Linked DNA regions of Homo sapiens. The protein of the gene in region 3 interacts with the protein of the main gene of each other region in a biochemical or structural test. Each region holds a gene or a part of one and is shown on either strand. Other genes may lie near its edges.

Region 1 (4,299 bases), on a different chromosome or scaffold from region 3:
AGCAGAGGCTGGGCACAGTGGCTCCCACTTGTAATCCCAGTGCTCTGGGAGGCCGAGGTAGGGAAATCACTTGAGTTCAAGACCAGCGGGGCCAACACAGTGAAACCCCATATCTACTAAAAATACAAAAATTAGCCAGGTGCGGTGGGTGGTGCATGCCTGTAGTCCCAGCTACTCAGGAGGCTGAGGCAGGAGAATCGCTTGAACCCGGGAGGCAGAGGTTGCAGTGAGCCAAGATCACTCCACTGCACTCCAGCCTGGGCGACAGAACAAGACTGTATCTCAAAAAATAACATGATATAATATAACATAACATAACATATCATAACATAAAAATAAAGGCTGGGTGTGGTGGCTCACACCTGTACTCCCGGCACTTTGGGAGGCCGAGGTGGGTGGATCACTTGAGGCTGCGAGTTCAAGACCAGCCTGGCCAACATGGTGAAACCATGTGTCTACTAAAAATACAAAAATTAGCTGGGTGTGGTGGCGCGCACCTGTAATCCTAGCTATTCGGGAGTCTTGAGGCACAAGAATCGCTGCAGGTTGCAGTGAGCCGAAATCACACCACTGCACTCTAGCCTGGGTGACAGAGCGAGACTCTGTCTCATAAATAAATTAATTAAATAAAATAAAGATAGCAGAGAAGGGCTGGTGTGGTGGCTCGCACCAGTAATCAAAGAGCTTTCAGAGGCCAATGCAGAAGGATCGCCTTCCCGCCAAAAATTTGAGACCAGCCTGGGCAACACAGCAAGATCCCATCACTACAGAAATTTAAAAGTCACCCATATGCGCGTGGTAGCACATGCTAGTAGTCCCAGCCTCTTGGGAACCTGAGGTGGGAAGATGGCTAGAGCCGGGAGATCAAGGCTGCAGTGCGCTGTGATCAAACCACTGCACTCCAGCCTGGGCAACAGAACAAGATCCTGTCTGTAAAAACAAAAATAAAACACACAATTGCAAGGACACCAAAATTATATTCTCACACAACTTCAGAAGGTATCTCACCTACAAAATATAAAAAATTCCATAAATTCTATTTATGGCATAAGAGCTGCATCAGGAGAAAGCATGGAGAAGACTCGGTACGGCGAGAGGATAGGGAACTGCAACATAGTAAAATATTGTTAGGTCTTCACAATGACTGCTGCAATATTTAATGCAAATGTTAAATGCCTCTTCAAAAAGCAGCTTCCTACAGTTAAAAAATAGTAATATTCTATAACTAAAATTTGTTTTTTGCTTTTTTTTTTTAAATTCTACACGCTAGCAGCAGCAAAGGAAAAAAGCTGGATGCTACACCTAAAAGTATACAGCAACTGAGGATGCCCAAATAACAGTAAGCTGATGTACTTACAGGGAGTTTGGTGAAGGCCGGGTTGGTGACATGCTTCCCAAAGGCATCTTCCTGGAACTGAAGAAGCTGCACCACCAGCCCAGCCAGTGTTTTATTGGTAGGAGCATCCGCATGAACATACTGCAAGATAAAGACAGGCATTCAAAAACTAGTACAATTTTTGCAGGAGAAAATGTTGGCTTACTTCCTAGTACCTACTAAGTACTTACGTTATGGGAAATTTATAGATGTCTGAGACACGCTCTGTGCTATAAAGGAGCTTACAAAAACAAATATGTGTGTGCATTTAAAAATGGTTAAGACGGTTAATTTTTTTTTTCTTTTCTTTGAGACGGAGCTTCGGTCTTGTCACCCAGGCTGGAGTGCAGCGGTGCAATCTCGGCTCACTGCAACCTCTGCCTCCCGGGTTCAAGTCATTCTCCTGCCTCAGTCTCCAGAGTAGCTGGGATTACAGGTATGAGCCACTACCCCCAACTACTTTTGTATTTTTAGTAGAGACGGGGTTTCACCACATTGGATAGGCTAGCCTCAAACTCCTGACCTCATGTGACCTGCCCCTGCCTCGACCTCACAAAGATAAATCTCCTGTGTTTTTTACCAAAAAAAAAAAAAAAAAGTGAAATATTATCCATATTAATGTAAAGAATGTCAAAAGCCCAAACCAGTAGTAGACACATCAGCTAGGAAGCTTCACAGCAAGGAAAAATAATGGGTAACACAACAAGAAAAGAATAAATTAGTGAGTTAAATGTAAAAGTTTTATTTGGCAATTACATGTTCAATATCACTTTGAGTAGCCAATACTCTCAAAAAATTTTTTTTCTTTTTTTTTGAGACAGAGTCTTGTTTTTCACCCAGGTTGGAGTGCAATGGCATCATCTCAGCTCACTGCAACCTCCGCCTCCAGAGTTCAAGCGATTCTCCTCCCTCAGCCTCCCTAGCAGCTGGGACTACAGGCGCGCAACCACCATGCCCGGCTAATTTTGTTTGTATTTTTAGTAGAGACGGGGTTTCACTATGTTGGCCAGGCTGGTCTTTAACTTCTGACCTCATGATCCGCCCACTTCGGCCACCCAAAGCGCTAGGATTACAGGCGTGAGCCACCACACTCAGCCTCAAAAAGTATTTTTAAACCTCCAATTCCAAGCAAGAAAAACATCTATACCTGCCTTTCAGTTGGACGAGAGAATTTTTATTTTTTTATTTTTTTTTGCCGGAGCTAACTTTCGAACTACCATCCAACATTTCAAGGTTAATGTGGTATGTCTCTATTACAATAAATATTTTTTAGATGAGTGGTGTATGGTCAAAATTACATCAACTGCAAAGTCTACAATTATTATGCATAGGACAAAGGGCACACAATTTCTGCTACTACCATTGAAACTTACTTACAGCATATAAAAAGGCAATCATTTACTTTTTTTTTTTTTTTTTTGAGATGGGGTCTTCTTCCATCACTTAGCCTGAAATGACGAAACCCCGTCTCCACTAAAAAACAAATACAAAAAATTAGCTGGGTGTGGTGGCGCACACCTGTCCCCATGCACTCCAGCCTGGGTGACAGAGCCAGACTCCGTCTCAAATAATTAATTTTAAAAACTTTTTTTGTGTGTGTGTTTTTGGAGTCTCGCTCTGTCACCCAGGCTGGAGCACAGTGGCGCAATCTCTGCTCAGTGCAAGCTCTGCCTTCTGGGTTCACATCGTTCTCCTGCCTCAGCCTCCCAATAAACTGGGACTACAGGCACCCACCACCATTCCCGGCTAATTTTTTGTATTTTTAGTAGAGACGGGGTTTCACCATGTTAGCCAGGATGGTCTCGATCTCCTGACCTCGTGATCCACCCGCCTCAGCCTCCCAAAGTGCTGGGATTACAGTACTGTGCCCAGCCAATTTTAAAAACTTTAAAAACTACATACTACTTTCCCCTTCCTTATACTATATTGATAATTTGCAACAAAAACTAGCAAGCCTAGTTTTTGAAGGACCATATACTTTTTTTTTTCAAGACAGTGGTTTCTTGCTGTCTCCCAGGATGGAATACAGTGGTGTAATGACAGCCACCGCAGCCTCAATCTCCTGGGCTCAAGTGATCCTCCTCCTCCACCTCCCAGAGAGCTAGGACTACAGAGGCGTGCCAACACATCTGGCTGATTTTTAATTTTCTGTACACAACCGTTTTCACCAACTTCTCTGGGCTAGTCTAGAACTCCTGGGTTCAAGTGATTCTCTCACTTTGGCCTCCCAAAAAGTACTGGGATTAGAGGCATAAGGTACTGCACCTGGCCCATATACTTTCAAGTGAAAATTTGAAGTCAGTTTTTCTCCAATATACTCAACATAGTACTTTTTTTTTTTTTTTTGAGACAGTCTCACTCTGTTGCCCAGGCTGGAGTGCAGTGGTGCGATCTTGGCTCACTGCAAGCTCTGCCCCCCAGGTTCACAACATTCTCCTGTCTCAGCCTCCCGAGTAGCTGGGACTACAGGCGCCCACCACCACGCCTGGCTAATTTTTTGTATTTTTAGTAGAGACGGGGTTTCACCATGTTAGTCAGGATGGTCTCGATCTCCTGACCTCGTGATTCGCCTGCCTCGGCCTCCCAAAGTGCTGGGATTACAGGTGTGAGCCACCGCGCCCAGCCCCGTAAATTTTTAATAAACGGTATTCAAGGGCCAGGCGCGGTGGTGGCTCACACCTGGAATCCCAGCACTTTGGGAGGCCGAGGCGGGCGAATCACGAGGTCAGGAGATCAAGACCAACCTGACTAAAGCAGTGAAACCCCGTCTCTACTAAAAATACAAAAACTAGCCGTGCATGGTGGCACTTGCCTGTAGTCCCAGCTACTCAGGCGGCTGAGGGAGGAGAATCGCTTGAACCCAGGAGGCGCAGGCTGTAGCGAACCCAGATCGCGATCGTGCCACCGCACTCCAGCCTGGGTGC
Region 2 (4,299 bases), on a different chromosome or scaffold from region 3:
TGTCCCTTCCTTTGCCCCTCCCTGGTTTGTACTTCTCTTCTGTGCTCACCTAGCACTTTATGCTTGCCTCTGTTCATTTCACTCTTTACATCATACATACCTTAATAACAGGACCTATGTCTTTTGGCCTGGTACAGCACCATACACATAGTACTCAATACTGAATTTATGAAAAAGTATGTGACACACACACACACACACACACACACACACACACACACACACTTTAGAGACAAAGTTTCACTCTGTAGCCCAGACTGGAGTGCAGTAGTGCCATCATAGCTCATAGCTGACTGTAGCCTCGACTTCCCAGGCTCAAGTGATCCTCCAGCCTCAGCCTCCCAAGTAGCTGTGACCATATGCACATGCCATGACACCAGGCTAATTTTTTTTTTGAGACGGAGTCTCGCTCTGTTGCCCAGGATGGAGTGCAGTGGCGTAATCTTGGCTCACTGCAACCTCTGCCTCTCAGGTTCAAGCAATTCCCCTGCCTCAGCCTCCCGAGTAGCTGGGACTGCACGTGCACGCCACCACGTCCGGCTAATTTTTTTGTATTTTTAGTAGAGACAGGGTTTCACCACATTAGCCAGACTAGTCTCAAACTCCTGACCTCAGGCAATCTGCCCACCTCGGACTCCCAAAGTGCTGGGATCACAGGAATGAGCCACCGCGCCCAAATTTTTAATTTTTTATAGAGATAAGGTCTCCCTATGTTGTCCACGTTGGTCTCGAACTCCTGGGCTCAAGCAATCCTCCCGCCTCAGCCTCCTCAAGTGTTGGGATTTTAGGCGTCAGCCACCATGCCCAGCCAGATACATATTTAACAGAAGATTGTAAGTTAGCTTAAGAAATGAGTGCTCTGACAATCTGTCTACCAATTGGAAAAATTTAAGTAACTTTTTAATTTATATTCTGAATAAAATATAGCCACAAAGAAAGGCAGCTATATGTCGTCACATGTAAATATCCCTAATAAATATCTGATAAAAGAAGAAAGTAGGCCGAGCACGGTGGCTCACACTGGTAACCCCAGCACTTTGGGAGGCCAAGGTGGATGGATCACTTGAGGTCTGGAGTTTGAGACCAGCCCGACCAACATGGTGAAACCATGTCTCTACTAAAAATACAAAAATTAGCCAGGCGTGGTGGCGGGCACCTGTAATCCCAGCTACTCAGGAGGCTGAGGCAGGAGAATTGCTTGAACCTGGGAGGTGCAGGTTGCAGTGAGCCGAGATCACGCCACTGCATTCCAGCCTGGGCGACAAAGTGACTCACTCCGCGCTCAAAAAAAAAAAAAAAAGAAGAAAGTAAGTCACAAAACAAAATGTGTAAGGTGATCCTATTTAGAAAAACAAACAATATGTTATACTATCCCTAAAGCACTCTTGTTCTTTTGCTGTCCTAAAGTGAAGAGAATGGAATAGGGAAAAGGCTTGGGGGAAAGGGGACCTGTCCATGTTTATTGTCTAGACTTCTTGAATGACTGAATGGAATATTTAGTTAATATAAAAATATAATTTAGAATGATTTCACAAAACAAGCCATATACTTATTTTTCTCAGATGTGATGAGGCCTAATATTTGAAACTTATAGGTTATACTGTGACATTATGGAAGAGCAAATAAAAGAAAATGAATACCTCTTTAAAAGCAGCCATTTGCTTCTGGATTCGGTTTACAAATCGCCATTGTATTACAAGACTAAAAAGAAACAACATTTCATTTTCATGTGAACCAAGACAAAATTCTGAGGCACAATTATTCTAGTTAGAAACAAAAACTAAAGGCTAGCTGAGACCAAGGTAAAAGCTGAATATGAGTGCTTGCTACTGCATTGTGATAGAGAAAAAGAACACTGAGATTCTGGACAAGGGGACAGAGAAAGATGGTAAGAAGAGTCTTTCTGGAATAAAGTACAAAATTATATCCAATAAAATACATACTAATAAAATACTTACTAAATATATTCCTTTTTGTTCTTATTGGTGACAACTATTTCTGATCCACCATTTTTCAGCTCATGTTGATGTGTCTAAAATTAAACACAATAACTTGATATGTTATTTTAGCGAGAAAAATTTAAAAAGTATACATATTGTAGTTATACGAGAAACTTGGTGTTTTAAATTAAGTCCAGTCAAAAGTTAAAAACTAAGAAAACTTAAAATACTAGTTTTACTAAAATAAATATGGAACGAGTCAAATGTTAAAGAAAGTACAAATTCTTGCTCAGAGACAGCTTTTGTTACTGGGAAATGAATGTAAAAACAGAGCCTAGGAATGTATTAAGTGTACGTATTAACATCTAAACATTTGTCTCACAATTTATGTGCCATTTTAACTGATCAAAATTCACAAACCTGTCCAAAAAGTTCTTCATCTATGATAAACCTGAGGTCCAATTCTGTTGGGTCATTTTCAAGAATCCATCTTAGGGAATTGTAATATTCACTATCCTAGATGGGAAAAATTACATATTTAAAATTTGTATCTATAACACACCTGAAATTGCAAAAAACAGTATGTAGAGGGTCTGAATAATTGGGTAAAAGATGAGAGGTCAGATGGACATCCTTTACTTACACACATATATAAACAAAAATGTATGTGTGTATGTGTGTGTATTACAAAAAGAGATGGATGACAGGTAAGGGCAAGAGTAAAAATGCATCAATCAATTAATCAATTGGTGCCTACTTAAAAGTTTAGAATCTATGTTTATGTGGAAGCAGTGGAGGTACAGATTTTATCATCCAGTTAAAGGAATGAATACAGAAGTTTTCAGATAAAACCTAACTTCTCTGGATATCCAGGAGCACTTAGCACATTCCTCATATGCCTATGTGACTTCGTGTTAAATGTTTTATTTTTATTTTTTAATTTAATTTTTTTTTTTTTGAGACAGGGTCTCGCTCTGTCCCTTAGGTTGGAGTGCAGTGGGGCGACTGTGGCTCACTGCAGCCTCGACCTCCTTGACTCAAGTGATCCTCCTACCTCAGCCTCCCAAGTAGCTGGGACTACAGGCGCGCACCACCACGCCTGGCTAATTTTTGTATTTTTTGTAGAGACAGAGTATCACCATGTTGGCCAGGCTGGTCTCAAACTCCTGACCTCAAGTGATCCACCTGCCTCAGCTTCCCAAAGTGCTGGGATTACAGTTGCACACCCCTGTGTCCGGCACTAAGTGTGAAATGTTTAAGTAGCTATGAGGAGGCCATTGTTTATACCCAGCCCGAGTTAAAGAAAAATCTCTTAATAAATATAGAGGCTCAATGAACCAACTCAAGTAACTGTGCAATCTTATGATTTATAAAGAATCACACTGTTTGTGCTGTTAATATGTAATAAGAAAAGAATAAAAAATGAACTTGGTACTAAGGAAGATGCCCTGGAATTCATGTGAACACACATTGTGTGAGGCTATTCAGCAGCACAGGAAACAACACGGCTACAGTCCGGGGTTTAATCCTTGGGCTTCTGTTTTTTTCTAGGAACCTAACCATAACGCTTTGCCTTTCGACTGCCATTTAAAAAATATACACCATTTGGCCAGGTGCGGTGGCTCATGCCTGTAATCCCAGCACTTTGGGACGCTGAGGCAGGCGGATAACGAGGTCAAAAGACTGAGACCATCCTGGTGAACACGGTGAAACCCCGTCTCTACTAAATATACAAAAATTAGCTGAGTGTGGTGGTGCGCGCCTGTAGTCCCAGCTACACAGGAGGCTGAGGCAGAGAATTGCTTGAACTTGGAAAGCAGAGGTTGCAGTGAGCCAAGATCACGCCACTGCACTCCAGCTTGGCAACAGAGTGACACTCTGTCTCAAAAAAAAAAAAAAAAAAAAAAAAAAATATATATATATATATATATATATATATATATATATATATATAACATTCATCATAAAAGATCATAATGCAAATACTGATTCAAAAGACATATAACTTGGTATAACCTATTGAAGTATTTAGTGGGATGTTTAATGTTATCTATAACTTACTCTGAAATGCATGAAGAAACTAAGACAGACTGATGGATAGACAGATAGGTATGTGATAAAGTAAATCTAGAAAAAAAGCAATTGTGAGTAGTTGATATACAACTGTCCAATGTAAAATTCTTCCAACTTTATTATATGTTAGAAAATTTTCATAATAAAATGTTGAGGAAAAAGTTCATTTGTATTTTGAAACATGATAATATATTAATTTCCATGTCATTAAAAGCAAATTCTTCAAAATGTTCAAGCTGCTTGTTAAATTATACTTCGTCTATACTATAAGTGAAAAAGACATACC
Region 3 (4,299 bases):
GCTGTTGTCAGGTCTGGGGTGGACCAGGAAGGGGACAGCCACAGCCCACTCATAGCTGCCTGACACCTCTGGAGGACGGCCAACACCCAGTTGCAGGGAGGATGATCCAGGGCCCAGAATCTGCCCCTGTGCCCAAGAGCACTCATCAGGAGACCCCACCCACTCCGCAAGCCCTCCATGCCCCTGCCAGTGGGCTGCCGAGCAGGCGTGGTCCTGCCACCCTTGGGTGCCGGCTCCTGTCCCTGACCTGGGATCTCGCACACCCCCGAGTGTGCACATACACGCACATACGTGCCACGCAGCTCCACCCCGCCTCCCACGTCCCCTCCCCCAGCCACAGGGCCCCTGCAGGTGCAGCGGGCAGGCAGGGGCGCTCAGTGAGAGCAGAGCAGGCTCAGGGGGCTGCATGCAGCCCACCCCACCCGTCCCCCATCCTGGGCCACCCCGCTGCTCACGCCCACCCGCCTGCATGCCAGTCTGGAGCTGTCGGCCCCTGATGGAGTGCCTCCCATCCTGCCAGCTGCCACTCCCCGGGACGCTAACTGAGCGGGAAGACTGATGAGCGCCCAGGCCCGGCACCCCTGAAACCCATCTTATCCACCAACTGCTGCCAGCCCCCACCGTGCCCAGCATGGCCCCGTGCTGCCCCCGAGCACGCAGCTCCCGTGCCCAACCCCAGCCTTGCCCCTGACCCTGCTGCCACAAGCCCAGCCCCAGGTTCTGTGAGCTGCATCTGGGGGGTTCTGGGAGCTGGATCTGGGGGTGCGGGAGGGGCAGGCCCAGGGGCGGCGCTTACCAGGCGTGGGGGGTGGGAGAGGACAGGTGCCCAGCCCCGAGCATTCCTGGGGAGTCCTGGGATGGGCAGAGGCCCAAATGGGCCCTGGGCTTTCAGTGCCTTCCCCTCGCCTGGCCCCACAGACCCAGGGAACAGACGGCGATCAGGGCCTACCCCAGGAGACGGGTGTGAGTGAAGGGGCCTCACGTGGCCTTTGTCTTCGGCATCCCAGCCCAGCACACAGACCCCTCCAGGGGAGGAGCAGGATCCCCAGGGACCCGGGGTAAGGGGTCCAGAGACACACAGTTCTCTTTCTTCATCTCTCGCCTAGAGGGTCAGCTAGAGGATCACTTGGGGGGGTGCCAGCTGCAGCCAGGGCCGTGGCGCGCATCTTAACGAGTTCAGCCCAGACAGGATGCTGGGTGGGCGGCCAGCCCCGACAGCAGATGCGGCAGGGCCCCACTACTCCCTGATCCAGGACTGGGGTGACACAGGACGGGGCAGGTGGAGGAGACAGCCACCCGGGGCCCAGCATCACTGTCCTCATGGCCACAGGACGCCTGCAGGCCTGCACCTGCCTACTCCGGGTCCCTCAGGAGGGTGGGAGCACAGACACATCAGCCAGGGCTGCCCTCCCAGACCCCTCACACAAAGAGACCAACCCACATGGAGTCTTCTCCTTCACTATCCTGAGGGTCCCCAGGGGAACTGGAACCTGTCATCCAGGACTTAACTTGAGTTCCCCACCCTGTTGTGGTCCTCAGATGCCCCCCACTCGAGGCAGGAGTACAGTCCACTTGAAGAGTGGCCTCTCAATCCCTGACACCCCAGGAAAAGTGCCCTGCATTGCTGGGGGAACTGGAACCAGGCAGTAGGGACCTCGTCCTCCACACCGACCATGGGAAGCACCCGCCACAGAGGGGCCTTCCATCTCCCCACCATCAGCCAGCTGGCATCCCCCCACCCCACCCCAGTCACCCCCCCAACACCACCCCACCCACCTGCCTGCACAGCTGAGGGCACCAAACACAGAGTGGGCACAGACCCCCAGGTTGCCACGCCAGGCCCTCACTCCAGACGGGTACAGGCAGGCAACAAATGGGGAGGCCAGGGCACGCCCCACCCCACACACAGCCAGAGTCATCTCCTGCCAGCAGCCACTCCCAAGGGCAATGGAGACCGCCCAGCATTCAGGCCCAGGGGGCCTCTTCAGTCCCTAACTCTCACACCCCCATGCTGGGCTCAAGAACCCCCAAGTCCCCACCCGCTGCACATGTTTCAGACCCGGGACCTGGAGCAGGCAGGGTCCCAGTGCAACCCCGGCCTGGGCCTCAGGGTCTGGCAGGGAAGACGGCTAGGTGCCCCTTCAGAAATGTCAGCAAGTCCGGATGGGGGACCCCACACCACTGCCAGAAGACCTGAGTGGGGGGCCGAGTGGAGGACGGCACTGGGGACTGGTCCCACCTTCCTGCCCCATGGCTGGTCCCCTGGGCAAGGGGGAAGCAGCAGCTCCGGTCCCACCCTCCTGCCCCATGGCCGGTTCCCTCGGCAGCGGGGAAGCAGCAGTTCCAGTCTCACCCTCCTGCTGGCCCCCTGGGCAGTGGGAGGCAGCAGCTCCGGTCCCACCCTTCAGGGTTCTCTCAAGGCCAGCCCTGGGCCAGGTGGGAGCCACCCTGACCCTTAACCCTGTGACACTGCACCTATCCAAGACCAGGTCCTGTGAAGCCACAAGGGCAGGGGCTCCTGTGCCTGATGAAACCCGTAACCCTCCCCACCAGCCAGCACATCCATGGCCCAGGGCTCCAGGCATGGGAGGTGGCTGCCCTCGGTGGGGGGTAGGCAGTTGGCCAGACTCCTGTCCCTGCCCGGGGGGACAGCGGAGACCAGGCTCCCTCGACTCCTCCTGCACCTCCTGGGCCCCACACAACCCCAGCCCTGGTCCCTCTGGCATCCCGATGTCCCGGGTGGCCCTCCGGCAGGAGTGACCTTCCATCCCCAACCCCGCTCATCCCCAGGAAGGGGCTGGAGCACCCCCAGGGAAAGAGGGTTCCTTCCCAGAAGTCCTCCTGGACCAAATACCGGGGTTCTGAGAGGAAGCTGCTCCTGCCTGGCCTCCCCCAACCCACCCCACCACCACCACGGGGACCACATGGACAGTCACAGGCAGCCCACCCTCTCCACGCCTCACACACGTGTCCCAGGCCACACTGTGGGTCAGGCCCCCCAAAGCGGCACCCACTTAGACATGGGGGCCAGGACCCACGCGCCATGGGCAGGACTGGGTGGGCCCCTGAGGGCCAGCTGGTGGCCCTCCACGTCCCGGGACTGACCACCTCCTGAGCCACCAGGTGTGTCAGCCCCCCTAGGCCACCACGTCCTCAGCTCCCTGAACATTCTCTCAAAGTCCCCAGTTCTCAGGAAACTGCTGGATAAACACTTCGCAGAGACGGTGGTGGCAGCGGCTGGCAGGGTGCCAGGCGGCACCGAGCTGCTTCTCCACAGCAAAGTGAGCCCAGCAGGCCCTGGGAGCGGGCGCCAGCTGACAGCGGCCACCGTGGTCCCCACTGCCGACACATCCATCGCCCCGACAGCTGCCGGGGGCCCATTTACCTTCTCCAGCACATTGAGCAGACGGCTCCGCTGACGGCAGCCCATGAGGGGCCCGCAACCCACCCTCCCCGCCTGCCAGGAGACCGCACAGCTCACCGCGAAGGGCCCGGCCTGCCAGGCCTCTGCCCGGGCCCGGGAGTACACACCCCTTTACCAGCAGCCCTCGAACCCTGTAAACAACCAGGCTGGGGTGGGGGCAGGGGAGGGGCCACACAACGGAGGCCAGCTGACCCCACTTGGCTGGAGCCCCCAGGTCTGTGGGTGAAATACATCCACTGCTCCTCCCGGCACAAGCCCTTCTGAGGGGGCACAAGTGGCCAGTCTGCACAAGGAGAGGTGTCTGTTCCCGCCAGGCAGAGGACTGGCGCTCCACCTGCCTGGGCCTCGCCCAGCCCAGGACCCATTCTGCTCTCCCAGAAAGCCCACCAGGCAGGCAGGGCGGGCAGGGCTCATCATGCCCATCAGCTCCCTGGGAAAACGGAGACTTAGGGGAGGTGACCCTCAGAGGCAGATCATGACCAGAGAGACCCCAGGTCCTGCCGCCAAGGCAGGGGTTGTAACTTGACACAAACTGCAAATTCTTCACCTCCTTCCGCTCCACCATGGAGCAGGCCTCAGCCCGACACACACACCCCGGGAGGAACATGGTGCGGGCAGGCGGCACCACCATGACCCCGTCCACCTCGCTGAGGCACAGCCGGAGGCGCTGGGGCCTCTCTTCCTGCCACTCCAGGGAAGCACCTGGGTCTCAGCTTTCCATTCTCCTGGGGCTCTACTGGGTGGGGTACTGGGCCTCCCTGGTGCTGCCCCTGACAGACCACCTGGGCCTGGATGTCCTCCCCCACAGGCACTGCCCGTCACCCACCCCTCGGGCCGGCAAAGGCACCCCACCTGCCACACACCCATCCATCGCA
Region 4 (4,299 bases), on a different chromosome or scaffold from region 3:
TTGTTATTTTGTTTATAGTTAAATATAATAAGTTTAATGAACTTTATTTTTGGGGGGAAGATTTACATGAGATAATGGTATTACCAAAAGTAGCCGCGAATTGAGATTGGGCTAGATACATTTTCATATAGTTTGTAGGACTTGCAATACAGATTTTGGGACTAGTCATAAACTTTATGGTTTTATGTCATCGTTTTTTTGTCTTATGGTTTTTTTTTTTTACCCTTCTCTGCTATCTCATTTCTCTTCAACTAAAATCTTAGAAAATACTGTAAATTGAAATTCTCAAGGCTTAATATGCTTAATACAGGGCACACATTTTATGATTCTTTTACCTTAAAATTTTTTACCAATTCCATTTCTGAGTGTCACATGACAACTAATCCTTGACGACTAAAGGGATATAATTTTGTTAGAGTTTTTATAAGATGATCTTCATCAAAAGATGCAGCCATGCAGGAACTTTCAAATCTTTGATGATGGAGAAGGCCCTTTGAAACTGGAGCTGGTTTTATATTTTGATTATGACTAATAGGCAACCTTTTTTTGTGTGTGCTTGTGGTTTAGTGGAAGAAGAGGGAAAAGGGAGAGATCAGGAGCTAATTGTGACCCATTTCCAAGTGTCCAAGTTTAGGAGTTGATTCTTGTCATGATTAGTCATTTTGGAAGCACGCATGTGCATTTAAACCACACTACTTTCATTCTGAGTAATGTAAGAGGATTTTTAACTTCCAAAAATGTCTAGAATTCAGGTTAACGTCTCCTAGTCATGTGTGCATAAAGGGCACGGTATGCAGGGCCTTACTTCTTTTCAGGCTATTTGGGCCATTGCATTATGAGACCTTGTAACCAAAATTATCACCCTAACATCATAAAATGAAAGAATTAGAAAAGAGGACTTAGAGATCAGAATCTAAATCAGTGGTTCTCAGCCCTGGTTGCATGTTTGAATTACCTGGGAACTTCTGAAAAATACAAATACCCAGAGAATTTGATATAATTTGGCTTGTGTGTGGCTTAGCATTGATGGTTTTGTGTTTTGTTTTTTTTTTTCAAGTTTCTTAGGTGATTCTAATGTATAGTTAGGATGAAGTTTTCTGATCTAGTTCAACCCTCTTATTTTACTGGTGAAAAACCTGATTTTTGGAAAAGCTAATGACTTTCTTAAGATCACACAGCTAGTTAGTAGAGAGGTAATTAGTAGCCACAGTTCTAGAGGTTTTTGTTTTCCATTTTCTTCTTTAAATTGATCTTTTTTAAAAGGTCATTTGCTAGGTAATGGATAGTCTCACATAAGTAGCGCTTGCTTTCCTGAAAGGCTTATTTGCCTCTCAATCTAAAAACATCTTGCTTATTATTTCAGCATCAAAAGGATGGGCAAATGTAGATGGAGGCTGAGTGAGTGTATCATGTTTGCATAGCTGTCCAGTGCCTGTCAGTAGGGGTACTTAGGAACTATGAAGTGATAAAAGAGGTAAGAAGGATAGCATTTTAACAAAAAGAGGAAGCCCTTGGTTACTTACATTTGTCAGATACTGTGTCAGGGAGAAGGATGATGACTATCTCACAGGTTCCCTTACCTCGGGCATTAAAGTAGAAATGAACAATCAGATGTGGTTAAGAGGGGAAAAGGTTACATTTCCTTTAATTCAGATTAAGCTTGCACTGCACCCATGATTGAACAAGTGAGTTCTCTCAGTTCCTCTTGTCTTGGGGAGACCTCTAAGGACGCCAGGGCTTACCTGGTAAGGCCTATCTATCACTTATTTCGTTATACACAGCACACATCTGCTTTTCCCATGGGTCAGGGTGTAATCAAATTAGGCAGACTTGAGTTTCTGTAGTGGTTCCCATAATTTCACAAGTGTGGGGGATACTGTGTTAAGATTTCTGCTGCTGCTGCTGCTGCAGAAGATAATTCTTCAAGAGTCCGAGTCTTCTTTCATGTAAGAATGTGTATTGTTATGGCTTCTTGCCAAGATAAAAAGATGAGGGCTGTCCTGTCACATAATGCTTATTTGTGTCCTCACTGTTTCTGTTCTTTAGATTAATACATCCAGTTCCTTTTCAACACACTGTATTAGGAAAATGTTATTTTAACTGCAACTCTGTTTTAAATTTTTTTTTAATTTGAAAATGACTAAGTCATAATCATTCCACATTGGCTCATAATTTTGACCTCAGTCACCTTTTGGAGTAACTCACCAAAAGGCCAGTTATGGTCGTGTGTGAAGAATCTGTCTGCTTGGCCCGTGTTGCCAAAATGTCGTTTTGTAATTTCCTTTGGCAATAGTGTCTTCGTCAGTGATTCTCAACTAATATACTTCCTCTTTCTACAGCCCCAGTACACTAGAGGGACTGTTTTTCCTCTTTTTCAAAGCTGTGTCATTGACCTCTGAAGTGAAGAAATTGGCCCTTTTAGACTTTGATCTGTGAGTCCCATGTAACAGAGACTCTTTAAAAAAGAAGCTAAGTGTGTGTTTTGATATGTTTATCTCCTTCTTAGAAAATGAAATGAAACTACAGCAGACTTATTTTTAGGAGATTTTAGGAGTGTTCTATTTTAAGAAAATGACACCATACAAGAACATCTTTTAGTTAAACTTCTTAGTACTCTGCTTGTGATTCTTACTTAAAACCTGCAAGATACTTTTATTTGGAAAATTAATGAAGAGGCCTTGTCTCACTAATAAGTCATTTAATTTGGTCTGGCAAAAGTTTACCATCCATTCAAAGATCTTCATGAAAATGCAAAGATAAGGCTGTTTAGGCTTGAGCCCAGGAGTTCAAGACCAGCTTGGGCACATAGCAAAACCCCATCTTATTTTTTTTTTAAAGACTGTTTAGGCCTGTGCATTCTGGCAGGTTGCCCCACTTACCCAGAGCAGGTGCATCAGATTCCAGATTCCCAGGGCTGGAGAGAATATGGAATTTATTTTGTTTGTATACCCACTTATTTTGCCTATAGGGACAGACTTGACCCTATTCTCAACTCCTCATTTCTCTCCTTTTCCTGCATCACAAATTGAGGGGTCCTGAAGAGCCACTTTACCTTTTTGGTGCTATAAAAGGAGCTGGGGATCATAAATGCAAAGACGAGTTGATATCAGTGGATGTTACAGCTGGTATACAGTAAGTGAATGAAAGATTGGAAAGAGAAAACCCTTTTTACCCATTTGCATCACATCCCATTTCATGTATTCAACAAATGTTTATCAAAGGCATGCTGCTTGCAGAGCATTTGCCAGGACTTAGGGATATAGTGGTAGCAGAAGGCAGATAAAGTTCCAGTTCACTCACAGGAGTTCATATTCTGATGGAGGAGACAGAAAATAAGCTATAGCATATCTGTGCTTTGTGAATTTGTCATTGCTGCCTATTCCCGTTGCCTTTTTTTTACATCTGTATTTCTGCTTTCTCTAGTACTTCAACTCTGCTAAGAAGTTGCTGGGAAGTGGCAAATTTGATGTGGGGCATGGCTTGGAGCTAGCCTTTAACTCTCTGCAGATCATTTTGAGCTTGCTTTGGAGATGCAAAACCACCGTACCATGGCTCCTGTGGATTGGGTCTGTTTGGGAGAAGCTTTGGTTTTCCAAGCTCCACCTGGATTAGATAGAGCACATCTTTGGCCCTGGACTGATCTGGGATCCCCAGTTCTGTCTCCCAGGGCCTGATGTAGATCTGGCCTTCCTCTGGAGTGGATGTGGAGCCTTGATGCCACTGACTCATCTGTATTACTTGTTGCCTAAAACTCAGAACTAAAAGAGATCTTAAAGATCATCTAACTACCTTATTTTGCAGGTGAGAAACATGCTAGGACTATGTGAGTGACTGGGTTCAGGGTTCCACAGCTAGTAGGGGTGGAGTAACGGGTGTGTCCAGTCAGTGCAGTGGTTCATGCCTATAATTTTAACACTTTGGGAGGCCAAGGCAGGAGGATTGCCTGAGGCCAGGAGTTTGAGACCAGCCTGGGCAACAAAGTGAGACCTCGTCTCTACCAGAAAAAAAGAAAACTAGGCCAGGTGCGGTGGCTCATGCCTGTAATCCCAGCACTTTGGGAGGCCCAGGTGGGTGGATCACCTGAGGTCAGGAGTTCGAGACCAGCCTTACCAACATGGTGAAACCCTGTCTCTACTAAAAGTACAAAAAGCTAGCCGGGCATCGTGGCGCATGCCTGTAATCCCAGCTACTAGGGAGGCTGAGGCAGGAGAATTGCTTGAACCTGGGAGGCGGAGGTTGCAGTGAGCCAAGATTGTGCCGTTGCACTCCAGCCTGGGTAACAAGAGCGAAACTCCATCT
Region 5 (4,299 bases), on a different chromosome or scaffold from region 3:
TCAATGCTTACAGCTGGCTGGGAAAGCTGGGCAGAAAAAAAAGGGAAGTAGGTGAGACACACGCAGAGTCTGCCAACGATACAATCAGAATGTAAGGTAAGCAACAGGATAGCAGAATTAGCCACCTATTTCTTGGCTTATATTTATTCATGGTGCTTTCATTTGCTCTGCCCATTTCACCTCCCTTAATTATGCTTAAGAACAGGAGAATTAAGACTTGTAAATACTGGTTGGCTGATTGTACATCAAAGAACCAGCAACTATTTCATTGATAACTATCATTATCTGGCAGTGTGTGGGGATTTCAAAGATGTCTGCTTCAGAGGAGCTCACATTTATACAGAAATGAGTGAAAGAAAATAAGAAAGACTGGCTTGTTTTTACCTTCTCACCAGAGAAAGTTTCAAAGGTACAGAAAAGGAGACAATAAATATAATGATGTCCCAGAGAGTGGCTGTTTTGAATCGCTAGATTCTAATGAGATAAACTGGCATTCCCTATCTTTATCCTAAGGCTTGTCATAAGAAATCTCTTAATGAGAAGTCAGTATTTTCTGGAAGTATCCTTGATTTTATAAAGAATAAAATCAAGCAGATCCACTGGTTCCTCTCTCATTCTGTCCTTCCTTGTCTATCAGAGGCCACGATGAACCAGCCATCCGTCAAGTACAGTACTTTATAAAACGGCTGTGACTCATGGAACTTCTCAGTTCATCAACATGGCTGAGAACTATTGGATACCGATATATATTAATATCGGTATCAAAGTAGAAGCTTCTAAACCCTTAAAAAAAGTTCTATTAATAAGGATTCAACTATTAGATGAGAATTTGGATTTTTATTATATACATAACCAACCTCTCACAAGGAAGCTACAGGTTGTTCTGGGTCTATAATTCTCTCATCTTATTTTTAAACTTTGGTTTGGGCCACAAGGACTCATAAATCTGCAATTTTTTTTTTTTTTTTTAGACGGAGTTTCACTCTGTCGCCTAGGCTAGAGTGCAGTGGCGCAATCTCGGATCACTGCAACCTCCACCTCCCAGGTTCAAGCCATTCTCCTGCCTCAGTCTCCCGAGTAGCTGGGATTACAGGCACCCGCTACCATGTCTGGCTAATTTTTGTTATTTTTTTGTAGAGACAGGGTTTCACCATGTTGGCCAGGCTGGTCTTGAACTCCTGACCTCAAGTGATCTGCCTGCCACAGCCTCCCAAAGTGCTAGGATGAAAAGTGTACACCACCGCGCCCGTCCAAATCTGCAATTTTTAAATTCAATCTCTAGGTTTTATGGCTCAAACTGTTTGAAAAAGATTCCTTAAATATATGTAAAATTTATGTGCTGCACTAAATAATATACTAAATAAGGAGAAGGATTGTGTCCCCTTGTCGTACCCCTTTACGTACCTTCAGACCTCAGGGTACAACATGAAACATAATGGTCAAAGTCAGAGCTAAATAAAATCTTTATGCTCCTGCTACGATAGGTACTATCACAGGAAGGCAAAACAGGATACAAAAGTCCCTAATGAAAAATAGATTACATTCTACTTGTGGAGAAAACAGTAAGAGATAAAGCAAAAGAGAATGGAAATGGCCCAGAAGTAATATAATACTACAGTATAGCTCTAATGATTCTGCCTAAATCCAAATCTCTACTTACTGGAGTTGCAGGCTGCGGAGGAAGCAGCGGTGCTGTTGGGGTAGGAACAGACGCTGCTGTGCTCTGCTGTGAGCGAGGCTGCTGCTGGGGCTGGTCAGCAGAAGGTGCAGCAGGAAGTGAAGGCTGCACTTGTTGGGGAAGTTGTGTTGTTGGTGGTGTAGGTGTCTGCCTTGGAGGGGGATGTAGAGCCTGGGACTGTGGCCCAGGTGGCATGGCAGGAGGTGTAGGAACAGGGGCTGGAATTGTTGTTGCTGGTGGCTGCTGAGCCCCTATGCTTGGGGGAGTATGGTGAGGGGTGGGGGTACGACTAGGTACAGGCGAGGGTGAATTCTGATGAAGAGCTGGTTGAGGAAGCTGGGGACAGTGAATGTGGCTCCCCTGAGACCCTGGAGGCATTATAGGAGAGTTCACCGGGCAGGAAGAACTAGACATTTGTGCCTGTTAAAATAAAAAACATAACAAGACAGCAATTCAGAACAGAATTAAGGAAATACTTACATAGGCATGATATATAAATTTAGGACACAAACTGATTAAACAAAGAGTAGCAATGTGTCTATTTCAAAATGTGTAAAATACCCTATTACTGGGCATGTATCTTTGGACAGCACCATCAAGATAGTACTTAACTAAAGAGACTTCAAACCATTCAGCAGAATGGCCTCAGCCACCGCAGAAAAATGGCAGAATTGAGTGCAGAGTGCTCTAGGGCCTGCCTATGCTCTTTTCAGCCAGATTTCCTTCTACATTGTGTTTAATTCTAAGATTTATTTTAAAGTGTTCACTAGTAAAAACAATTAAAACTATCCATTTAAATTATTTCCTACTTTGTAACAATTAACACCATTGCTATGTCACAGAATAATCTCTTCATGTTCAGAATACCCTAAGTCCAAAATTGTTATTTTTTAAAAAATCATCTGTTTTCACCCACTATTTGCTGCCACTCTCTCCTATAAAAACCTACATCAAGAGAAGTTTCAAGAATCAAAAATAAGTGAAAAATCCACTTATGAGACATACTTGAGACACTGGAGCTTGACCGCTGGACGGAGCCAAAGGGATATTTGTTACATTCATTCCCTGTGATGGGAACTGAGTCTGAGGAAGGAACTGGCCCTGGTTGGAAGGCTGTTGCATACGAGGCCCATAGCCCATAGGCTGAAAAAAAAAAAAAACACAAATCACCAAACTGCTTCATTATAGTTATTCTACTATAACTAAAATCATCAAATGCTCCTAACGTCAGGCTTATTAAGTAGAGAAAAGCCAAAGACAGGAGTATAGGTGAAGAGGGCTGAAGAGGAGAAGGAAGAAAGTTGTAGAACAACTGACTCTTGTGCCAAGATAAAGAGAAATAGCCTCACAGTTTACCTAGGCCTACTCCAAGAAATAGTAAGAGGATGGAACACACATTCTCTTGGTACACAAATATGCCTAGCACAAGGATAGCAGGTAATTTTCTTTGCATGCTCTGTTAAGTGAGGAGAGTTAATCACAATTTCATGAGGTCATGTCAGTGATGTAATAACACAAATTCTAAGACCCATAATATGTAAAAACAAGAAAATCTTACAAGTTGTAGCAGAATCTGGTAGCATTCATGGTCCACAAATGCTCTAGCACTGTTACATGTCATTTCCAAAATTACCCTACACAAATTCAGGCCTTAAAGAAAGAAATCTCGAGTACCAAAGGCCAAAAACTTCATAAGCTAAGACCATCTGTCTTATAGGTTAAAATGAAGGACAGAACTCCCTGTTGAAAATGGCAGATTAGTGAGAAGTAGTAATGCTCAGGAACCCCCAAAAGGGTCAAGAATCAGAGGCACCAGCTAACTCTAAAGGGCAGCAGGAGGGTTAGGGTCAAGGTAGAGAGATGGACTGGTTAAGAGTTCGCATAAGGAGCAGGAGAAGCCTAGTCTCTCTTCTCCGAGTTCAAGAACCAGGCAAAAACGCACCATCAACCTTGCAAGACAGTTCTCTGCCTGGAGGAGGGAAGACAGACATCAGGGAAGAGAAGTGACCGTGAAAACGCATGCAGGCCACTAAACACTGACACTCCAGGGACAAGGGACTGGCTGTTTTCGTTTTTTGGTCAGCTTTCTAGTAGAGTTAAATACAGAAGAATTACAGAAGAACTAGGAGTTATGGTCTGTTTAAATGACTGTGAGAATTTATAAAGTAGGAACAAACAGGATTTTCAAAATACCAGGTAAAGGCCAAAGAGATTACCAAAGACGTCAAACTAACCGGGTTGAGAGCTCCAGGTTGAGCCAACTGTCCATGGTGCTGAAGAGGAGGGGTTTGCCGGGGTACAATAGGGGGCTGGGCCATGCTCATCTGGCCAAATTGATTCAAACCTGTGAATATGAGCAAAATGTTAGATCTGAATGCCTTTGTGAAATTGAATAATAAAAGATAGAATTCTTATGTCTGATTCTGTATCTTTTTTTTTTTTTGAGACGGAGTCTTGCTCTGTCGCCCAGGCTGGAGTGCAGTGGCGCAATCTCCGCTCACTGCAAGCTCTGCCACCTGGGTTCACACCATTCTCCTGCCTCAGCCTCCTGAGTAGCTGGGACTACAGGCGTCCGCCACCACACCCAGCTAATTTTTTGTATTTTTAGTAGAGACGGGGGT
Region 6 (4,299 bases), on a different chromosome or scaffold from region 3:
AAACCTTAACAAGAAAATGATAAGAACTTTAAGGGACAAATACTATATAATTCTTTCACTAATTCCCTCAAATATTTCCTGAGGGCCTACTATGTGTCAGGCACTGCCCCTGGGGAGGGAAGTGCTGGGAAGAGGGCCGTGGAAAGGCTCTGGAGTTCTTACTGACGCTCACCTTCTGGTGTCACAGGAAGGGGAGCAAGCCTAGAGCCTGAGATGACAAAGACGGACGAGAAATGCCATGTGGGCCACTGGGGTCAACAAAAAGCAAAAGAACAAAGAAAAATGCAACCGGTCACCAGGCTTTCTGATAAATTCGTCTGATTTTAAATCAAGTCATCCATATAACTGTTACAGAGGAACAAAAAAGACAGAGAGAGAGGGCCCTGCTAAGCTCTGAAGTGCTCCAAGACAGGAGACCCAAGCTAGCCTGCTGCTCACCTGGGCTCTCCCGGGCTCCACATCATGCAGCTCAGAAAACTTGCCCTGCTGCTGTTTTCCTTAAAGCTGTCTGTGCAGCCGTGGTAGGCCAGTGCTCCCCAACGGGTGCTCAGAGAATGAAGTCCCACGTTATATCAGTCACCAAATTGCAGCCCATGGGCGAAGTCCTCAGATGCCAGTCTTTACAACTAGAGTTTTACTGGAACACAGCCAGGCCCACTCGCCTATGGCTACTTTCTTGCTGAAATGGCAGCCTTGAGTAGTTGCAACAAGAGACCATATGGCTCAGAAAGCCAAATGCGTGCTCTCTGGCCCTTTGCAGAGGAAGTCTGCGGACCCATAATAGGCTAAAAAGAGTTCTAGCGTCAAACAGGATTGAGAGTGGTCCAACTGTAGCCCCTCTCTCACAGTGCCCAATCAGGACACCAAGGCTCTGGGAAAGTCTGCAGTCAAATTCCTCAGCTACAAGCAACAGCATCTGAGCACAAACCATTTGTTGAGAAATACCTCTTAGCATGCCCTCTAGTTTCTTGGAATACATGTGAAGAGCTGGTTTGAGTAAGGTAAAGAGGGGTGCCCTCACTAATGGGACCCCAAAAACTAAACTGACAAGCTTTTGCAATCTTCAGAAACTCACAATAAGGTACATTTCATCTTAACTAAGGTAAGACACACTTTGGCAAAATCATTTTCCTAACTGTTTTCAAATACATCAAGTAAAAACACAAGTCAGCAATTATGGACCCCCCAGGTAATCACATACTTTGCCACACAATTACAACACACTACTTAGAAGCTGTGAAAACACAGGCGACTAATCTAAGCATCAACTTCCAACTGCAGGACTCAGTCTCTTTGTAAGTTATGTTCAATTCTGTTTACAGAATCAAATCTGAATGTTCAGCCAGGAGCGACTTTCCATCTTCTGAAGGCCCTCTAAGGCGCCCTGCACATGACTTGTCCTTGCCTACCTTCATCCCTGACGACCTTTGAATGGGGCCACCGCTCTCACCCCTCTCAGTTATTCAAAAACGAAGCACGGTCATGAAATGTCCTAGTCCTAAAAGTCTCTATGACAACTTTTATTCCTACTTAGCCAGAACTCACTGATGGGGTAACATAACCGTTTCTCATTCTCCCTGAGGTAAACAGGAACACGAGCCCACACACGTCACGCTGAGGATAACACCAGAACCAGAGGGAAAAGGGGGACGCCCTAACCCAGGAGGAAGAATACACTCCTGGCTGCCCCCACCACAGGTGGTTACAAACCTCCCCCTTAGTGATCTCATTCATGTGCGGGAAGGCCGCTACTGAAACTCACTAAGCTTGGCAGGTTCCTGGGTCGATTCAAGTAAATGCATTGTTTACAGATAGAGACTTAGAAAATAAATATATAGAGCTACGGACTTTAACAATCTAGTTTGGATCTGGTTTTGACCCTGTATCACCTCTCAAGTCCAGTTCCTCACCTAGAAAATAGCAGTAACAGCATCTTCCCTTCCTCACAGGACGCTGTAAGGATCAAACTGAGGTGACGTGGAGAAAAGCACTCTGATACATAAAGTACCAGACATACATAACAGACCATTTGGTTGACAACCATATTCGCCACCAGCTTTCTTTAAATAAGCTTCCCTATTGCATTTAAAAGGATTCACGTCATAAAATGTAATCACAACTGCTTAGAGCCACTTATACAGCACAGGATGAAACACAGCTATGTTCAATCTTCAGAATGTAGTTTTTCTTTTCCTTTTTCCCCCAGAGACAGGGTCTCACTCTGTCACCCAGGCCAGAGTGCAGTGGCATGATCACAGCTCACTGCAGCCTCGACCTCCTGGGCTCAAGCGATCCTCCTGCCACAGCCTCCTGAATAGCTGGGATTACAGGATTGTACTATTACACCCAACTAATTAAAAAAATTTTTTGTTTAGATGGGGTCTCACTATGTTGTCCAGGCTGGTCTCCAACTGCTGGCCTCAAGCAATCCTCCTGTCTCAGTCTCCCTAAGCACTGGGATTATAGGCATGAGCCACCACCCTGGCCTGCAATTTCAAAAAACTTTATAAACAGTCTGTTGTGTGCAAATTTTGCAATAAAGCTGACCAAAAAAAAAAAAAAAAAAAAAAAAAAACAACCCAGAAAACAAAAAACAAAAGTCTACTGCTTGCCTGGATATTTGTCTTATACTGTTAAATCATGAATCTCTGATGTTGAAAGACACAATATGCTATTTTAACTTGGACATATTAAATAAAGAAGTTTCCAAAACACCCAACTAACTATATACCGGTAATATAAAGTCCCCACTTATTGTAAGGGTGCCAAGTAAAGGAAGACCTCATGTATGAGAAAGTGTAAAGGCTTCTACATAATACAAGAAAATGCTACTTTAACATCTGAGGCCATCAAATTCTGTGCCTCTCCAGGGCTGCTGCTTCAGTGGGGTGAAAGGTACCGTTTCTCTCTTGCTACCCTCATTCGCAGCACATTCCGTATTTCTGCATCATCTCTGCATAAGCTTCCCAGGCTTCGGCAACTTGTTTGTCATCAGTGGCAGTGACATTCATCACTCTGAGGTGCTGCATGACCTTCGGGAGTGCTGTTTGCAACATCCATGCCCCCAGATGAGCAGCACCCTGGCTGAGCAGCTCCCCAATGTCGGGTGCATTTTTCTCTCAGCTCACTGCCACCCTTCACAGACACATCTAAGTGACACTGGTGGCCCCACAGGCCAGTCTCTACAGACATGCACTGCAGTCCAAGTAGATCCTGTTTCTCAGGCTGCCAAGGGCTCCTCCTCCTTTCAACCCCTCAGCTCCTAGACAGAGGTCCCCTCCCTCAAATTTGATCACATGCACCGGGCACACACCCTGCTCCACTAGGCCCAATTTTCCCCTGGGAGCCTCAGAGACACATCCCGTCACTAAAATAAGATTGAGTTCCTCAAGAATGTTATTCTCAGGTCTGTCCCACCTAACCAAATGCCTTCAGTTTTTGAATGTATTTAATGTAAAAACTCAAGCCATTTATTTGTTTAAAATACATCCCTAAGATCTCTGTCCATCTCATTACTCAATTTCTTAGTGGAGCAGTTACAACAGACAAAGTGTCCCTCGTTTCTTTTGGAGACAGCGTCTCACTCCATTACCCAGGCTGGAGTGCAGTGGCGCGATCTTGGCTCACTGCAACCTCTGCCTCCCGAGTTCAAGCAATTGTCATGCCTCAGCCTCTCAAGTAGCTGGAATTACAGGTGCATGTCACCATGCCTGGCTATGTTTTTGTATTTTGAGTACAGATGGGGTTTCCCCATGTTGGCCAGGCTGGTCTTGAACTCCTGACCTGAAGTTGATCCACCAGCCTCCGCCTCCCAAAGTGCTGGGATTACAGGCATGAGCCATGGCGCCCAGCAGCCCCTTGTTTAATGTGCTTGATAATGAGCCCTTCCTTGGTCCCCCATACTAACAGACCCTTTCACAATAGTGTGATGGTGATGAATGTGTAACACATGACCCAACTTAAGTATGATGTTGACTTTCTACTTTGGATTAAATCGGAGCCATTTAAAGCTGACTTTTGGTCCCACGAAAGAGCCCCTGTGCCTTACAAGGATCAAAATTGTAAAGGAAGGGGGAAAAGGTGGTTAAGTGTGGAAAATCCTTTCTGATCAACTTATTAAGCATCTGATCATCCAATAATGGACACTACTATGGAAAAAGCTAACCTTTGGGCTCCATCTTGGAAACAGCTGGATGTACATATAAGGACATGCCTTTTTGTTAAGTCTTGTGTTACTAATTGTCCCCCTTTTTAAGACAAAATCTACAACAAATTCATTCAACAACAGCAAAGCTACAA
Region 7 (4,299 bases), on a different chromosome or scaffold from region 3:
TATTTTTTTTTTTTTTTGAGACAGGGTCTCATTGTTCCCCAAGTTAGAGTGTAGGGTGGCAAGATCAAGTCTCATTGCAGCCACGACCTCCTGGGCTCAGGCAACTCTGCCCACCTCAGCCTGAGTAGCTGGGACTACAGGCCTGTGCCACCACACTCGGTTAATTATTATTATTTTTTTGTAGACAAGGTCTCACTATGTTGCCCAGGCTGGTCACAAACTCTTGGACTCAAGCAATATGCTCACTTTGTCCTGTCCTCCCAAAGTGCTGGGATTATAGCCACGAGCCACCGTGACCAGCTGATTTAAAACATTTTGACATTTGGTATGTTTATATATTTATAATACTTCAAAAGTATCTAAAAACACAAATCTAATTATATTACCTCTCCATACCCCAATTTACTGAACTAAAATATCTATTTGACCAGCCCTCTAACATTTTTCTTTTCCTTTTTTTTTTTTTGAGACAGTCTCGCTCTGTTGTCCAGGCTGGCGTGTAGTGGCGCAATCTCAGCTCACTGCAACCTCCGCCTCCCAGGTTCAAGCAATTCTCCTGCCTCAGGCTCCAGAGTAGCTGGGATTACAGGCACCCGCCACCACCCCCGGCTAGTTTTTTGTACTTTTAGTAGAGATGGGGCTTCACCATGTTCTCCAGGCTGGTCTCGAACTCCTGACCTCAGGTGATCTGCCTACCTCAGCGTCCCAAAGTGCTGGGATTACAGGCATAAGCCATCACGCCCAGCCTATTTTTTCAAACAATCTGACTGAGGCATTCATTCTCCTCCTTTTGTTTTGATTCTGTACCATCCCCTTACTCAGAACGCAGACGCCTATGATTTTTAAGTCCAAAACCTGAACATATGCATTCCTAAATGTGGAATTTTGTTTTAACATTCAGATAGAGAAAATAACTGGGGGAAAAAAAACTTTCAAGAGGACTGTCTTACCCATTTCAACATGCCCCAACATAAAATTGAAATTACCTTAAGAGCTACAAGCAGTGTAACTGTTTCAACTGAATAATATCCTCTGTCAACATAATCTCCCATAAACAAGTAATTTGTATCTGGTGATTTGCCACCAATTCTAAACAGTTCCATGAGATCATGAAATTGCCCATGCACATCTCCACAGACAGTAACTGGACATCGAACCTCTTGCACGTTGGATTCTTTTGTCAGGATTTCTTTAGCCTACAGATGGGAGACAAAAATAAGGCAATACATTTGGCATTAAACAATATTAACAAAGATTTGTTTACTTACACTTAATGTAGCTTAAGGGGCAGACTCAGTCTAAGATAAAATTGCAGGCATTTATGAACCCATTAAAATAAGTGAGATATGATTATAATCCATTAGCTATCTCACCCTGTTACCTAGGGAAAAAATATGCATTCCTATCATCAATACCAGGAGTTTTTTAAAAACCTATCAAATAGCCATCTAATTAAATACTAATTGTTAGCTGTCACATAAAACCAATGAAAATCGAACAGGACATTCAGGTATCTACTTCCTTACCTTCAGAGTTCTAACTACAATGCAGCACTCAAAGATTCTTTTTTTTTCTTTTTTTGAGACAGGGTCTCATTTTGTCACCCAGGCTGGAGTGCAGTAGTATGATCATAGCTCACTGTAGCCTGGATCTTCTTGGCTCAGGAATCTTCCCACCTCAGTAGTGGGGACCACAGGCACACGCCACCATGGCTGGCTAATTTTCACAAACTTTTTTGTAGAGACGGGGTCTCACGTGATCCTCCACCCTCATCCTCCCAAGGGCTGGGATTACATGCATAAGCCACCTCACCTCAGCCCTGTTTGACTTTTTAAAAACATGTTTTTGGCCAAGCACTGTGGCTCATACCTGTGAGAAAATCATTTGCTCAACCATCTGTACCAGCCCCATGCTAGCAACTGGACATATAGTGGTGAACAAGATGGCTCATTCCCACTACCGTAGAGGGGAGAAGGACCACAAACAAGTAACCAAGCCAAAAGTACACTGTGTTAAGTGTCACAAAGGAAAGGGAGAGGGAAACTGGGAGAGACCACTTTACATAAGATACCAAAACAAATTACCAGAGAATTGTTGCTAATGAGCCATGACAACCACAGATGACAAGGACTGGGTTCAAAGCATTGGTATGCAATCTTAGCTGCACATTAAAAATCCCAATGCCCAGCCAGGCGCGGTGGCTCGCACCTGTAATCCCAGCACTTTGGGAGGCCAAGGCGGGCCGATCACTTGAGGTCAGGAGTTTGAGGCCAGCCTGGCCATCATGGCGAAACCCCATCTCCACTAAAAATAAAAAAAACTAGCTAGGCATGGTGGTGCATGACTGTAGTACCAGCTACTTGGGAGGCTGAGGCAGGAGAATTGCTTAAACTTGGGAGGTGGAGGTTGCCGTGAGCCAAGATCGCATCACTGCACTCCAGCCTGGGTGACAGACCAAGACTCTGTCTCAAAACAAAAACAAAAACACCAATGCCCATTCCTTCCCCTAATAAAGTCAGAATTTTGGAGACTGGAATCAAGCCATCAATAATTTTTAAGCACCCCCACCCCTCCTTTTCCCAGTGTGCAACCAAGTTTAAGAACCACTGCACTTTGGGACGCTAAGGCGGGTGGATGGCTTGACCCCAGGAGTTCCAGACCAGCCTGGAGTACAGTGGCATGATCTCGGCTCACTATAACCTCCACCTCCCAGGTTCAAACGATCCTCCTGCCTCAGTCTCCATGAACAATTGCGACCACAGGTGTGCACCACTATGCCTATTTTGCACTTTTTGTAGAGGTGAGGTTTCACCATGTTGTCCAGGCTGGCCTCAAACTCCTGAGCTTAAATGATTTGCCCACCTCTGCCTCCCAAAGTGCTGAATTACAGGCGTTAGCCACTATACTGGCCTGAGATACCTATTAAGAAATATGTACAACCCATTATTATCAAATCCTACTTCATTCTGAAATTTTTCTCTGCAGGGTAATTCCAACTTCCCATTTACTATCACTAAAAAACACAAATTCACTAGGCTTATTCCATTACCAAGTCTGTCTGGCATTAATACCACATCTAGTGTTTTTTTAACACCTATCATATATTAATGAAAATAACTAAATGAAATAAGTCCTACACTGAGAAGAAACTTGCAAAAGTTATTCAGAAGTTTTAAAAGGGCATGACATAAGCAAACAGATGGTTATATACCATGTAAATCTTGCCATGATGTAATTTTCACATTTAAAGCTATCAGAAGTTAAATGTTAATATACTTCTGTGAATATCTGTTTATCTGCAAAGCTATTCTCTGTATTAATAATAAAAAGTTGACTTTCAGGACTGCCTGAAGTTCCTTACTACAACTGACTCAAATTTTCTATTCAAATCATGAAGGAAAATTAAGTCTAAATGCTATTTGTTGCTTTTATTTCAATTTAGGCAAATCACACCGATAAACAGTGTTATCTATTTTTTAAACTATACAAATTAGTAATACATTCTTGTAAAAAATTTCGGCACAGATAAAATGAAATGTTCCCTTTGAGCACCCTACACAATCCCACCCCCTTTGGGCAAAGTTACCAATAAAATTTTGATGTACAGATGCTCCTCAATTTGTAACACAGCTGCATCCAGATAATCCTATCGTAAATATAATCGAGTCAACAGTGTGTTTTCAGCTTACAATGTTTTCAAGTTATGATATATTTATCTGGATGTAGTCCCATCATAAACTGAGGGGTATATTGAATAGCTATCATTTTCACACCATCATTAAGTCGAAAAATTGGGGAGTGTCTGTATATCCTTTAAAACTTTGTTTACAAAGTTTACACACATACTGTATGTCTACAGAAACAATAGTTTTCCTTTGCATTTTTAAACTAGAAACAATATTGTTCAGCAGCCTGCTTTTCTAACAATATATAATAATACATAACATTTATTGAGACAGCTGGTTATTTTCTCATAGTGGAGGCAGAGTATTCCCCTGACCAATTACAATGGCAGAGGGGTGTGAAACTACAGCAATATATATCCTCGTATTTTCTCCTCTGTATACATATGCAGGCACATTTCCTGAGAGAAGATACTATGAAGTGAACTTAACTAGTGTATCTAGTAGTTTGGTTTTTAAATGTTGACATTATCAAATTGTCCTTTAAAATAAAAAGAACAGTTAACTCTTAAGTGAAATTTCTAACTTGTCAATCTAGAAAAGCCAACCAGAGCTCTTTCTTCCCTTCCTACCAAACTTCACAGACCAGAACAAATATAATTAAATACTGGCGATA

The links.
Region 1: of the proteins of AKT1 (region 3) and SMARCC1, one has a biochemical effect on the other in vitro, tested with the Homo sapiens proteins (2 studies listed by BioGRID, with this or other methods).
Region 2: of the proteins of AKT1 (region 3) and NEDD4, one has a biochemical effect on the other in vitro, tested with the Homo sapiens proteins (3 studies listed by BioGRID, with this or other methods).
Region 4: of the proteins of AKT1 (region 3) and FOXO3, one has a biochemical effect on the other in vitro, tested with the Homo sapiens proteins (2 studies listed by BioGRID and IntAct).
Region 5: of the proteins of AKT1 (region 3) and EP300, one has a biochemical effect on the other in vitro, tested with the Homo sapiens proteins (3 studies listed by BioGRID, with this or other methods).
Region 6: of the proteins of AKT1 (region 3) and CREBBP, one has a biochemical effect on the other in vitro, tested with the Homo sapiens proteins (2 studies listed by BioGRID, with this or other methods).
Region 7: of the proteins of AKT1 (region 3) and PPP2CA, one has a biochemical effect on the other in vitro, tested with the Homo sapiens proteins (6 studies listed by BioGRID and IntAct, with this or other methods).

Annotation. Positions count from the first base shown.
Region 1 is NC_000003.12:47,771,460-47,775,758, forward strand, and holds part of SMARCC1 (SWI/SNF complex subunit SMARCC1), read right to left. Parts: intron 1,478-4,299; coding exon 1,358-1,477; intron 1-1,357. UniProt on the Homo sapiens protein: Involved in transcriptional activation and repression of select genes by chromatin remodeling (alteration of DNA-nucleosome topology).
Region 2 is NC_000015.10:55,836,149-55,840,447, forward strand, and holds part of NEDD4 (E3 ubiquitin-protein ligase NEDD4), read right to left. Parts: coding exon 4,299-4,299; intron 2,457-4,298; coding exon 2,361-2,456; intron 2,033-2,360; coding exon 1,959-2,032; intron 1,702-1,958; coding exon 1,641-1,701; intron 1-1,640. UniProt on the Homo sapiens protein: E3 ubiquitin-protein ligase which accepts ubiquitin from an E2 ubiquitin-conjugating enzyme in the form of a thioester and then directly transfers the ubiquitin to targeted substrates. Specifically ubiquitinates 'Lys-63' in target proteins.
Region 3 is NC_000014.9:104,781,761-104,786,059, forward strand, and holds part of AKT1 (RAC-alpha serine/threonine-protein kinase), read right to left. Parts: intron 1-4,299. UniProt on the Homo sapiens protein: AKT1 is one of 3 closely related serine/threonine-protein kinases (AKT1, AKT2 and AKT3) called the AKT kinase, and which regulate many processes including metabolism, proliferation, cell survival, growth and angiogenesis.
Region 4 is NC_000006.12:108,563,749-108,568,047, forward strand, and holds part of FOXO3 (forkhead box protein O3), read left to right. Parts: intron 1-3,423; exon of another isoform or gene 3,424-3,801; intron 3,802-4,299. UniProt on the Homo sapiens protein: Transcriptional activator that recognizes and binds to the DNA sequence 5'-[AG]TAAA[TC]A-3' and regulates different processes, such as apoptosis and autophagy.
Region 5 is NC_000022.11:41,147,560-41,151,858, reverse strand, and holds part of EP300 (histone acetyltransferase p300), read right to left. Parts: intron 4,023-4,299; coding exon 3,913-4,022; intron 2,822-3,912; coding exon 2,684-2,821; intron 2,099-2,683; coding exon 1,661-2,098; intron 27-1,660; coding exon 1-26. UniProt on the Homo sapiens protein: Functions as a histone acetyltransferase and regulates transcription via chromatin remodeling. Acetylates all four core histones in nucleosomes. Histone acetylation gives an epigenetic tag for transcriptional activation.
Region 6 is NC_000016.10:3,873,852-3,878,150, forward strand, and holds part of CREBBP (CREB-binding protein), read right to left. Parts: intron 1-4,299. UniProt on the Homo sapiens protein: Acetylates histones, giving a specific tag for transcriptional activation. Mediates acetylation of histone H3 at 'Lys-18' and 'Lys-27' (H3K18ac and H3K27ac, respectively).
Region 7 is NC_000005.10:134,204,936-134,209,234, forward strand, and holds part of PPP2CA (serine/threonine-protein phosphatase 2A catalytic subunit alpha isoform), read right to left. Parts: intron 1,197-4,299; coding exon 987-1,196; intron 1-986. UniProt on the Homo sapiens protein: Catalytic subunit of protein phosphatase 2A (PP2A), a serine/threonine phosphatase involved in the regulation of a wide variety of enzymes, signal transduction pathways, and cellular events.